Regions from separate parts of the Homo sapiens genome. Here region 1 is linked to region 2. The links come from fine-mapping of genetic effects on gene expression. A gene starts in region 2. The other region holds a variant in brackets. All regions are shown on one strand. Distances are between the middles of the regions. Region 1 overlaps VAV3 (vav guanine nucleotide exchange factor 3). Region 2 holds the start of VAV3 (vav guanine nucleotide exchange factor 3).

Region 1 (5,000 bases), 130 kb after region 2:
TTAGTTCTATTTATGTGGTGAATCACATTTATTGATTTGCATATGTTGAACCAACATTGCATCCCAGGAATAAGGCCTCCTTCATCATGGTAAACTAACTTTTTGATGTGCTTCTAGAGTTGGTTTGCTAGTATTTTGTTAAGGATTTCTGCATCTATATTCATCAGGGATATCAGCTTGAAGTTTTGTTTCGTTTTGTTTTTTTTTGCCCATTGTTTCTCTGCCAGGTTTTGGTATTAGGATGATGCTGGCTTTGTAGAGTCAGTTAGGGAGGAGTCCTTCCTCTTTGATTTTTTGGGAACAGCTTCAGCAGGACTGGTACCAGTTTTTCTTTGTACATCAGGAAGAATTTGGCTGTGAATCCACCTGTTTTTTTTTGTTGGTAGGTTTCTTATTACTGATTCAATTTCAGAATGTGTTACTGATCTGTTCAGGTTTTCAATTTCTTTCTGGTTCAATCTTGGAGGTTGTGTTATTCTAGGAGTTTATATATTTCCTCTAGCTTTTCTAATTTGTATGCATAGAGGTATTCATAATAGTCTGAGGTTCTTTTATGTTTTGGTAGGATCAGTGGTAATGTCATCTGCCATTTTTGATCATGCTTATCTGTATCTTTTCTGTTTTTGTTCATCTAGACAGTGGTCTAACAATCTTATTTATTCTTTCAAAGAACCAACTTTTGTTTTTGTTGACTTTTTAGATGTGTATTTGCATCTCAGTTTCATTTAGTTCTTCGCTGATTTTATTTCTTTTCTTCTGCTAGTTTTGAGCTTGTTTTGTTCTTGTTTTTCCAGTTCCTGTAGGTGCAGTGTTAGATTGTTAATTTGAGAACTTTTAAACTTTTTGATGTAGGCATTTAGTGCTATAAACTTTCCTCTTAAAACTACTCTCATTATATCCCAAGTATTTTGGTATGTTGTAATTCTGTTTCATTAATTTCAAAGATTTTTTGATTTCCACCTTCATTTTGTTGTTTACCTTAAAATCATTCAGGAGTAAGTTGTTTGAATTTATTGAGACTTGCTTTATGGCTAAACATATGGTCAATCTTAGATTATGTTTTGTGTGTAGATGAGAAGATTGTATATTCTGTGATTGTTGGGTTGAGTATTCTGTCAATGTCTATTAGGTCCAATTTGTCAAGTGTTAAGTTTAAGTCCATAATTTCTTTGTTAGGTTTCTGCCTCGATGATCTGTCTAATGCTGTCAGTGGAGTGTTGACATCTTTCACTATTATTTTGTGCCTGTCTTTTCGTGGGTCTCTAAAAACTTGTTTTATGAATCTGGATGCTCCAGTGTTAGGTGTATATATATTTAGGCACCATGCCTGTGTTTCCCTAGCCCTAAGGAATGTCCTAATGGGCTGTGCTTCCCCTTCCCTTAGGGGCAGCCTGAGCTGAAGGTTAGATTGCCAGAAACCTGCAGAATTCCGGAGGTCTGCTGGTCCTCTGTGCTTGGCACAGTCAGAATGGGTTGTGGAGTATGTCCATAGGTGGTCTGTTGATGTAAGAGGTCAAGGGTGGGGGATCTTTGGGCAGAGCAGTGATGCTGTGGCTGTGCAGATGGTATGGTGCCTATGGGCCGGGGTTTTTTGCCCTGCAGACAGCTGTGGGGACCTCCAGCTTGCTCTCCATTGACTGATCTCCTTCTGGTGGCTACTGTAGAATCTGTCCCTACCTGCTAGTTTTTTCCCAAACTTTCTTTGCCCAGATCATTGGGCTGTTAAGTGTTCTAGGCCATGAGGCTACATTGGGCAGAGGCTGCAGCTAGCAGATAGACCACACTGTTCCCAGACCAGCCCCGCAGAGGGAGGCATGCCCAGCTCTCACACTGGCCCACAAACCGCACATCTCACTCTTCTCAGTGTTCAGAGTGGGTGCTCTTTCCCTGCTTGAGGACCAGCCATAGATCTCAGCTTGTCACTCCTGAGCCATCTGCTCTAACCTGGGGGGTTGCCACAAGCCTGAGGCTTTGTCCTTTAGCTGCTTGGCACCAGCTGTGCTAGGGTAGCCATAGTGCTCCTAGGCCTCCAGGAAAGCACTCATGTGGGGCCATGGCAAGGCACTGAGGCTGGGTAATGGAACCTGTGCGGTGTGCATGCTCTTGTGGGAGCAGCCAGGCAGGGGCCTTGATAGCGGCTGGTGGACAGGGGAGCATGCAGTACAGATGTGCCCCAGTCCTGCAGAAAATATAGCCCTACTCTCTCCTGGCCTAGCAGTCAGCAGGGGTTACAGCTACTTGGAGGAAGATGGAGAGCCTTGAATGATGGGTGCTTATTAGAGCATTTTGCTGTAGCTGCCCTATGTGTAAAACCCCTGGGTTCCATGCAGGCTGGAGCTCTGTCTCTTTCTACTCTCTGGACAGATGCCCCTGTCAGTTCAGAAGCCTGTGGGGGTCATGGGATCTCCTGTAGCTAGGATCCCAGAGGTCCATGGTGAGAGTAGGTTGTCCCACAGTCACTTCACTCACTTCTTCCTTAGGAGCTGTTCAAGGCCAGGAACTAGTCCTGGCATTCAGCAACCCCATGCAGAGTTCCCAGCTTCCTTCCTCATCAGCCCTGGTGTTTGCATTGCCTCTCTATTGACTCTCATTGCTTTCTCTCCAAAGATCTGTTCAAAGTATGTTGGTTTACTCAATATTTTGGTCTCTCTTGGTGGGAGAGGGGCTTCCTGGCTGCATCTAGTTGGCCATCTTGTCCCCATTCCTCCCATTAAGGTATGTTTTGTGGCCTGGAATGTGGTCTGTCATGATGACTATTCCATGTGAGCTTGATCAGAATGCGTATTCTGCTATTGTGTAGAGTTATCAAATAACTTGATCTAATTGACAGTACTCCAGATTGTCAATTGAATATTCCA[A/G]TTTCCTGTAGTTATTTTCCTGTGTCCTTACTGATTTTATGCAATGGAACATTTTTAAAATTCCTGCCTTAGAGCACTGCATGGGGCCCAGTGGTTTAAGAGTTATGAGAGCTAATCCTGAAGGGGGCTAATTTATGACTTGACAACAGCAGAGACATTGGGTACTAAAGACATTCAGAACAGGTATATGTGGTTTTGGAATAATTTACGGGTGTATCATGCATTTATTTCCCTTTAAGAGATGTTTCTTCTGTGTGTGTCCATAAGGGTGCAATTTTTAAATGTAAAATGGGTTTATATATGGCCACACAAAATTGCATAATGAGAAAACAAGAATTATTTACAGCAAATTGTTGACTGTAGTTAAAACACCTGGTTCTGCTTTACAGTTCTCTATAGTTTCTAAATATCTTAAAGTGAGTGAAAGTGTTTTACTTTTGAAAAAGAACTAAAAGTATGTTATGGTTTATTGAGATCTGATACTGTCTCATGTGAGCAATGAACCTAAGGAGTGGACACTGTGAACAAAATTGCATGCGAGTAAGCATTGCCATGGCTAGTGCTTGATTACTTGTAGTAGTCAAGGAAGAACTTGAATGGAATTATTAATTACGATTCATGTAATAATTTTAGCACCATTTTTGAAGCCACCCTTGTCATCCAAGTGACTCCCTAGACCTTTGCTAGCTTCACAATAACAAGAACATTTCACTATTGCTTGGTGGGGTTACAGGGAGTGAAATAGGCACTGACCACACGTCATAAACACACTGTATAATTGATTCCTGAATATTCAGAACTCATCCCTTGAAAAAGAGTATGAACTTTTGGAAAAGATAAACCTAGAATGTTGTAGGTAAGTATAGACATACATAAGTAAAAATTAGAAAAAAAAATTTCTAAAATTTTGTTAGTCTCAGTTATAAGTGAAAAAGTATAGAAGAGAGATTTGAACAAATACGTGATAATATTTTCTTTAAAAAGGATTGGTCTAACATCATTTTAAAATTATGTTATGAAGATGACTTCTTTCTTAAAACCTTATGAACCAACCTCTGTTAGCTTCAAACTTTTCTTCTACAGTTTCCTCACCTTTCTCAGCCTTCACAGAATGGAAGAGAGTTAGGGCCTTGAGTTATGTTTTGGCTTAAGGGAATGTTGTGGCTGATCTGATCTATCCAGACCACGAAAACTTTCACTGTGTCAGTAATAAAGCTGTTTCACTTTCTTATCATTTGTGTATTTACTGGAGTAGCAGCTTTAATTTCCTTCAATAACTTTTCCTTTACATTCACTACTTGTCTAACTGGCACAAGAGGCCTAGTTTTTGACTTGCCTCAGCTTTTGACATGCCTTCCTCGCTAAGCTTAATGTAAATGTTAATGCTTGATCTTCATAATTATTTTATCTTTATGATTTTTTGCTATGATTTTCTAGTTGCGAAAAAAATCATGTATTTCTCATTAGATTTTCACTGTTATATCAAACTTTTTAAAACTTTTGATAGTGAAAATTCCAAGCACACAAAATAGAATAGTATGGTTCTTTGAATCATAGACCTTTTTCTAGCATGAATGCATTCAATTAACAATGTGTGTATGTTATTTGCTCTTCCTAACTTATGATTCAGCAGTTTACATTTTGTACAATGTAATCAATGGCTTACATTTTCTACAGCGTTACTGTTTTTAAAATTTCCATAGCTTAAATATGAATATTGAAGCATCAACACTTTGGAAAACATAAATTAATTGCAAGGTAGACACAAGGGGAGCCATTTCTACCGAGGTGTTAAAGACACCTATTATACTACATCCTGGATATTAGACAGTTGGAAGAGTTCATAAATTAAAAAATAAGCTTTAGTAATTTGGAGTTTGTGTTTTAAATTATTTTATAAAAGACTCAGATAGAAATGAAAATGATGATTTTGAAAATGCTGCCATGAAGAAATAGAAGGCAGTCAGTGGGACTGCCTTTTGGATTGCTGTGAGACTCGCAGGTCATTGTTCAGACTGTTAAAGACCCGGTCCACGAATTCCAAACATTTTCGAAGGTTCTTCCTGTTCTTATCATTGTAACTGCTCTGCCGATGCATTTGCTGACTCTCCAGGCACCTGCTTGTTCACAGTGAGTCTATAT
Region 2 (5,434 bases):
GGCGGATGTTGAAGTGAGTCGAGATCTGCTGCACTCCAGCCTGGCTGACAGAGTGAGACTCTGTCTCAAAAAAAAAAAAAAAAAAATTGTAAAGGGAAAAGACTGTAATTTTTTCCTTTAGTAAGGATAACTCAGGTGAGAAGCCCATTGCATTTTTATTGCACCAATTTCTGACACTTAAATGTCTTTCACGAGTCACCTATTGGCACTTAGCTCCTTGTTTACGTGAAGAATCCCGTGTCTCCACTAAACTCCTTCCCTTCTAGGCCTTCCATATATTTTCCTGTTGCCTTTCTATCAACTCTGTGGTTTACTATATTTGAGAAGCATTATGTTTTGAAGTCATATATTATATACAGAGAAGTGAAATAGAATATTTGGTCGTTGTTGCCACTTGTTAATGAAAAGTGGCTACTATTGGGTAATATTTATTGAGCTCTAATTATCAGGCACCACACATTCTATGCATTGTATCAGTGCTTCTTGGCTTTTGATGGAAATACATGGGATATGGAGATCTTAAAATTCAGGTTCTGGTTCATTCAGTATGAGAGTAGAGGCCAAACGTCTACAGTGCTGACAAGTTCAAGGGTGATGCTGCTGTCCACAGGCTGCATTTTGAATAGCAAGACATTGTACCATTTGATCCTGACAACAACCCTATTAGTTAGAAATTACTTCTTATGGCCAGGCACGGCGGCTAACGCCTGTAATCCTAGCATTTTGGGAGGCCGAGGCGGGCGGATCACGAGGTCAGAAGATCTAGACCATTCTGGCTAACACGGTGAAACCCTGTCTGTACTAAAAATACAAAAAAAATTAGCCGGGCGTGGCGGCCGGCGCCTGTAGTCCTAGCTACTTGGGAGGCTGAGGTAGGAGAATGGCGTGAACCCGGGAAGTGGAGCTTGCAGTGAGCTGAGATCGCGCCACTGCACTCCAGCCTGAGCGACAGAGCGAGACTCCGTCCACCCCCCACAAAAAAAAAAAAAAATTTCTTATTTCGTATCTATGGAAACTGAACTGTAGAGAATTTATCCAAGGTCATGTTGCTAGAAAGCAGTACAGCTCGGGCTCTAAATCCAGATTTGCGTCCTGGGATAGTGTATATAATGTGGATTTTGGAAATATTCTCCAACATCCAAAGGTGATCTGATGCTACCTGAAAAAAATTCATAGTTTTAGTTTAAATTTTGACCCGTTTAATGAAATTTCTTTTTAATTTCTCTTTATGAAAGACTGTGTTAAATGGTGATTCAAATGTGTTGGATTTTGCTTCTAAAGGTATGTAGAGATTAGTATGATTTATTTGCCAAAATTATGGCCTAGAAAATGTCGTGCTATTGATGGAATCCGCATTGAACACAAGAGGAAATTGCTAGGGAAGGATGCGTGTGAGGAAAGGAAATCCTCAGGCTGATTTATTGTTCAGCGCTGAGTGTAAACAGTGTGCTATCCTTGTCACAGCCAAACGAAAAAGGACGCAATCACTATCCTGAACAGATCATTCTTTTAAAAATAATATTTTGGCCTGCTTATAAAGCATGGTTCGTAATAAAAAATTTGGGCTACAGAAATATAATACAATTAAATTATCCAAACTCCCATCTTTTTGTTTGTTTGTTTGTTTGTTTTTTGAGACAGAGTCTGGCTCTGTCGTCCAGGCTGGAGTGCAGTGGCTGGATCTCAGCTCACCGCAACCTCCGCCTCATGGGTTCAAGCGATTCTCCTACCTCAGCCTCCCGAGCAGCTGGGACTACAGGTGCGTGCCACCACGCCCGGCCAATTTTTTGTATTTTTAGTAGAGACGGGTTTTCACCGTGTTAGCCAGGATGGTCTCGATCTCCTGACCTCGTGATCCGCCCGCCTCGGCCTCCCAAAGTGCTGGGATTACAGGCGTGAGCCACCGCGCCCGGCCTATTTTCTAATTTTAAGTGAATGCATCTCAAAAGGGTGACGAAGGACCACATTCCTATCGAACAGCAATAATTCACTGTGGCAATATCTTGCCACAAATAATTTAAACATTAATTGTGGTTTTGAGGGGCAGTGTGCAGTGGGAGTAAAAGGGGTAGGGTTTAGAGTCTCCAAAAGATTTACTTAAGAAACACGAATGCACTGCTTGTGCACTGCGCAAAAGTTCTGGGGTCAAGTTCCAACTTTCACTAAGGATCCCAGAACAGCCCGGCAGGAGCTGCCCAGGGCTAACGCGCTTTGCTCTCAAACCCGGCCGCCAGTCGCCGACGCATGCGCAGTCTAGCACCGTGGCACAGGCCTTTCTCAAGCAGGTTTTTGTGGGGTCAGCAAAAGGGCCAGAACAGCAACGGCAAACAGTTCCGAGCCTGACAGTGCAGGGGCAAACCAGCTCCAAGTGAAAATCACCTCGCGAGGAAATAGGCTCAGGGATCGGGGCGGTTTCCGCAGGCGTCTCCACACACGCACTCTCACTCACTTTGAGGGTGCCAAAACACCACTAGGGGCAACTAGGAGGAATAGGCTGAGGAATCAGCTATAGAGAATGGAGGGGATAGAGCTGCAAGGGGCGAGGGGGCGACGATCTCTAAAACTTTCAGCGCCGTGCTCTACTGATGCTCTAGGCACTTTTTTCATTGCTCTGGGGAGTCTGGGTGCCCCAATTAATCCGTCGCTCCTTTGAGCATTTGTTGTTTAGGGGGTCCTGGGGGACCCCATCGTATTACAGTATTCAGCCACACTCCCCGCAAAGCCGGGAAGCCGCCCCGAGAGAAGACCCCAGGACGCCGGGGGCTGCGTGAGCCCCGCAAGGCTGCAGGCGGGGGCGCGGGATCCCCTTTCTGGCCGCCGCCCCCCTCCGCCGGCCCCTCCCCCGCGCCCCGCCCTCGGCCACAGACCCCAGCCCCGGCCGCCGGCGCGCTCCCACCCGCGCGTCTGGGGACTTGCGGACCGCAGCGAGACCGGCCGGCGTGCTGGGCATGCTCAGTGGCGGGCCGGGCGCTGGAGTCGGAAGCCTGTGCGCGGCAGCCGCCGCCGAGCCGGCCGGGGCGCACGGAGAGCGCGCGGGACTCGCTGCAGCGGCGGCCGGGTCGCGGCGCACCCGGGCCGGGACCGGAGCCGAGCCTAGCGCGGCGCCCGCGACCCGTCAGCCGCGGCTCCTGCTCCCTCGATCCCGCGCGGGGAAAGGGCCGGCGGCTGTTGGCGTCGGCGGGGCGCGGAGGAACCGCGGCGGCGGCGGCGGCGGCCGCATCCTTGCCGCCCGCCCCGGCCCAGCCGCGTCCCGGAGCCGTCGGGCATGGAGCCGTGGAAGCAGTGCGCGCAGTGGCTCATCCATTGCAAGGTGCTGCCCACCAACCACCGGGTGACCTGGGACTCGGCTCAGGTGTTCGACCTTGCGCAGACCCTCCGCGATGGAGTCCTGCTCTGCCAGCTGCTTAACAACCTCCGGGCGCACTCCATCAACCTGAAGGAGATCAACCTGAGGCCGCAGATGTCCCAGGTGAGGAGGCCGGCACGGGCGCCCCGCCTCCAGCCGGCAGCTCCCATTAATCATGCGGCTAATTTCTTTGTGTAAATGCAAACGTCTAGGTGCGCTGAGCTTGCCCTGCTTCCCAGCCTTCTGCTTTGGGACCACTTCGGCACCACTTTGGCGTTTCCTACCTTGGCTTGAAATGGTTTAGCTCCTCAAGCTGAATGCGAAAGCTTTGCGTCCGGAGATGGTGTGAGGATTTCGTAAAGGCTTTCTGTGAGGCGGGAAAGAAATAAGTTGTCTTAGGGTGCCCTTCACCTACTCTGCGTGTGTGTGGCGCGACAAAGGGAATTTGATCAAGCTCTTCTATAATAACGAAGGGGAGGGACGAAACGAGGTGATGGGGTAATTTGCCTTTAGTCTCTTCTTTTGCTTTGCGTCTTGTACTCATGTTTTCCTAAAAGAGGAACCATGACATACATGAGGACTCGAGGAAGTGAAGGGCGTTTGGTCCCGTTATCTGTCCAGGAGTGACATTGGTCAAAGGGAAGAACAGGGAGCAGAACCCGGAGGCCGCCCCCAGGGCCCCTGAGCTGGTGGCCAGCCGGCAAGCTCCCGTTTACAGCTCTTCCTAAGCCATGTGAGAAGGAGCGAGTCCAGCCTCTCTCAGCAGCGACAGGAAATGAGAAGTTTCACTAGAGATTCCGCTTTCCTTCCTGCAGTGCCCTGCTCAGGTGCTGTGGTGCCGGTCGGCTCCTGGGGCTGGAGCTGCCTCTTTGAGGGTTAAGCCAGACACCTCTGGAAGGTTGGGTGCACCCTAGAGTCAGCTCAAAAGTCACAGTTCAGTGGAAGAGTAGTTTATTTGTCCTGTCGGAAAATTTTTGTACAGAAGGATGTTAAACTCGGTTCAGAGCCTCTTTCTCTTTCAGAATGTTAAAACAAAACAAAAAACCAAACTGCTTTCAACTTAAAAGGGAGAGGACAGAGCCCTCTCCCTGACACATTTCAGCACTAATCCTCTATGACGCAGAGCCTCAGCTACTTAGCAACCAGAGCAGCGCCTTTTAAGAAGGAACGGACTTTATATGATTTAATAAGTATGTATTTAAAGTTAGAGCACACACAGTCATCTGTGATTCTTGGTGTCAGTGTTTCATCAGGGTCCCCTGCACTTCAGATTCTGCATTCCTTGCCTGTTTGCCTTCAACCTGCTGGTGGGCAGTCCCTAAGAAAGAACAGGCATGGAAGTGGGGAGAGCCATACGTATTTAAAAGTGAGGTAAATTATTTTATACCCCCATAAACATGCATGGTGATTGCTACCTCTCGGTACCCCTTCAGAGTTGTCTCAACTCTGGAAATTCCTTTGAGGGGTTTGGCAGACTTTTCTATTATGGTGGGAGCTGCAGTTAGCTACTCTCACACATCCCCATTTTCCACTTTGCCTGTAGCCTCAGGAGGCAGCGTGGGTCAGGATGCCTTGGCCCACCAGTAGGGAGTACAGTACTGTGCACATTTCCTGGAACTTGTTTCCTGGAACTCTCAGCAGTTGCTCTCAATAATCACGTTTTCTGGACAGCTGAAGACCTTTTTAAACCTCGAAGCCTTTATTTGAATGCTAACAATGGATGAGAATCGTTTTGAATGTGTTTCACTCTTCTCCTCTTATGTTAGATGTAATTTAATCTTTCTGATGACCAAAGATTGTCATTATAAGCATCATTAATGAAAATTGAGCACATACAATGCTCTAAGAGTTCTGTTCCCTAGTGGGGGTAGCAAAATGAGCACACCAGGATACTTGCCCTAAAGGAATTATTACACTATGCTATCAGATGGTAAATCACTGGGTTATAATAAGGTAAGTAGGACAGCTAATGACCTTCTTTGTGCCGTTGCACTTTTGAGTTCTTAAGTCTGTTCAACCTTGAGGTTTCTGGTTCCAAATTAAGTACAGTTTCTCCTGTAATGTCCTATGAGAGGGTGCTTCCCTCAA

What was found. PIP is the estimated chance that this variant, and not a neighbour inherited with it, causes the effect.
Region 1: its variant is the best candidate, but not a certain one, in a credible set for the expression of VAV3 in left ventricle (GTEx, PIP 0.73).

Annotation. Positions count from the first base shown.
Region 1 is chr1:107,832,310-107,837,309 of GRCh38, reverse strand. All of the region lies in intron 2 of VAV3 (vav guanine nucleotide exchange factor 3), which reads left to right. Among named protein-coding and RNA genes, the nearest start is that of MIR7852, 62 kb to the left of the region's middle. The variant A/G (reference allele first, on the strand shown) is at 2,859.
Region 2 is chr1:107,962,701-107,968,134 of GRCh38, reverse strand. VAV3 (vav guanine nucleotide exchange factor 3) reads left to right here and starts at 2,955. Exons shown (of 27, transcript NM_006113.5): 1 at 2,955-3,469. The coding sequence starts at 3,266. VAV3-AS1 (VAV3 antisense RNA 1) reads right to left here and starts at 3,692. Exons shown (of 3, transcript NR_046653.1): 1 at 3,631-3,692. RefSeq lists enhancers at 2,169-2,238, 2,174-2,468, 3,815-3,944.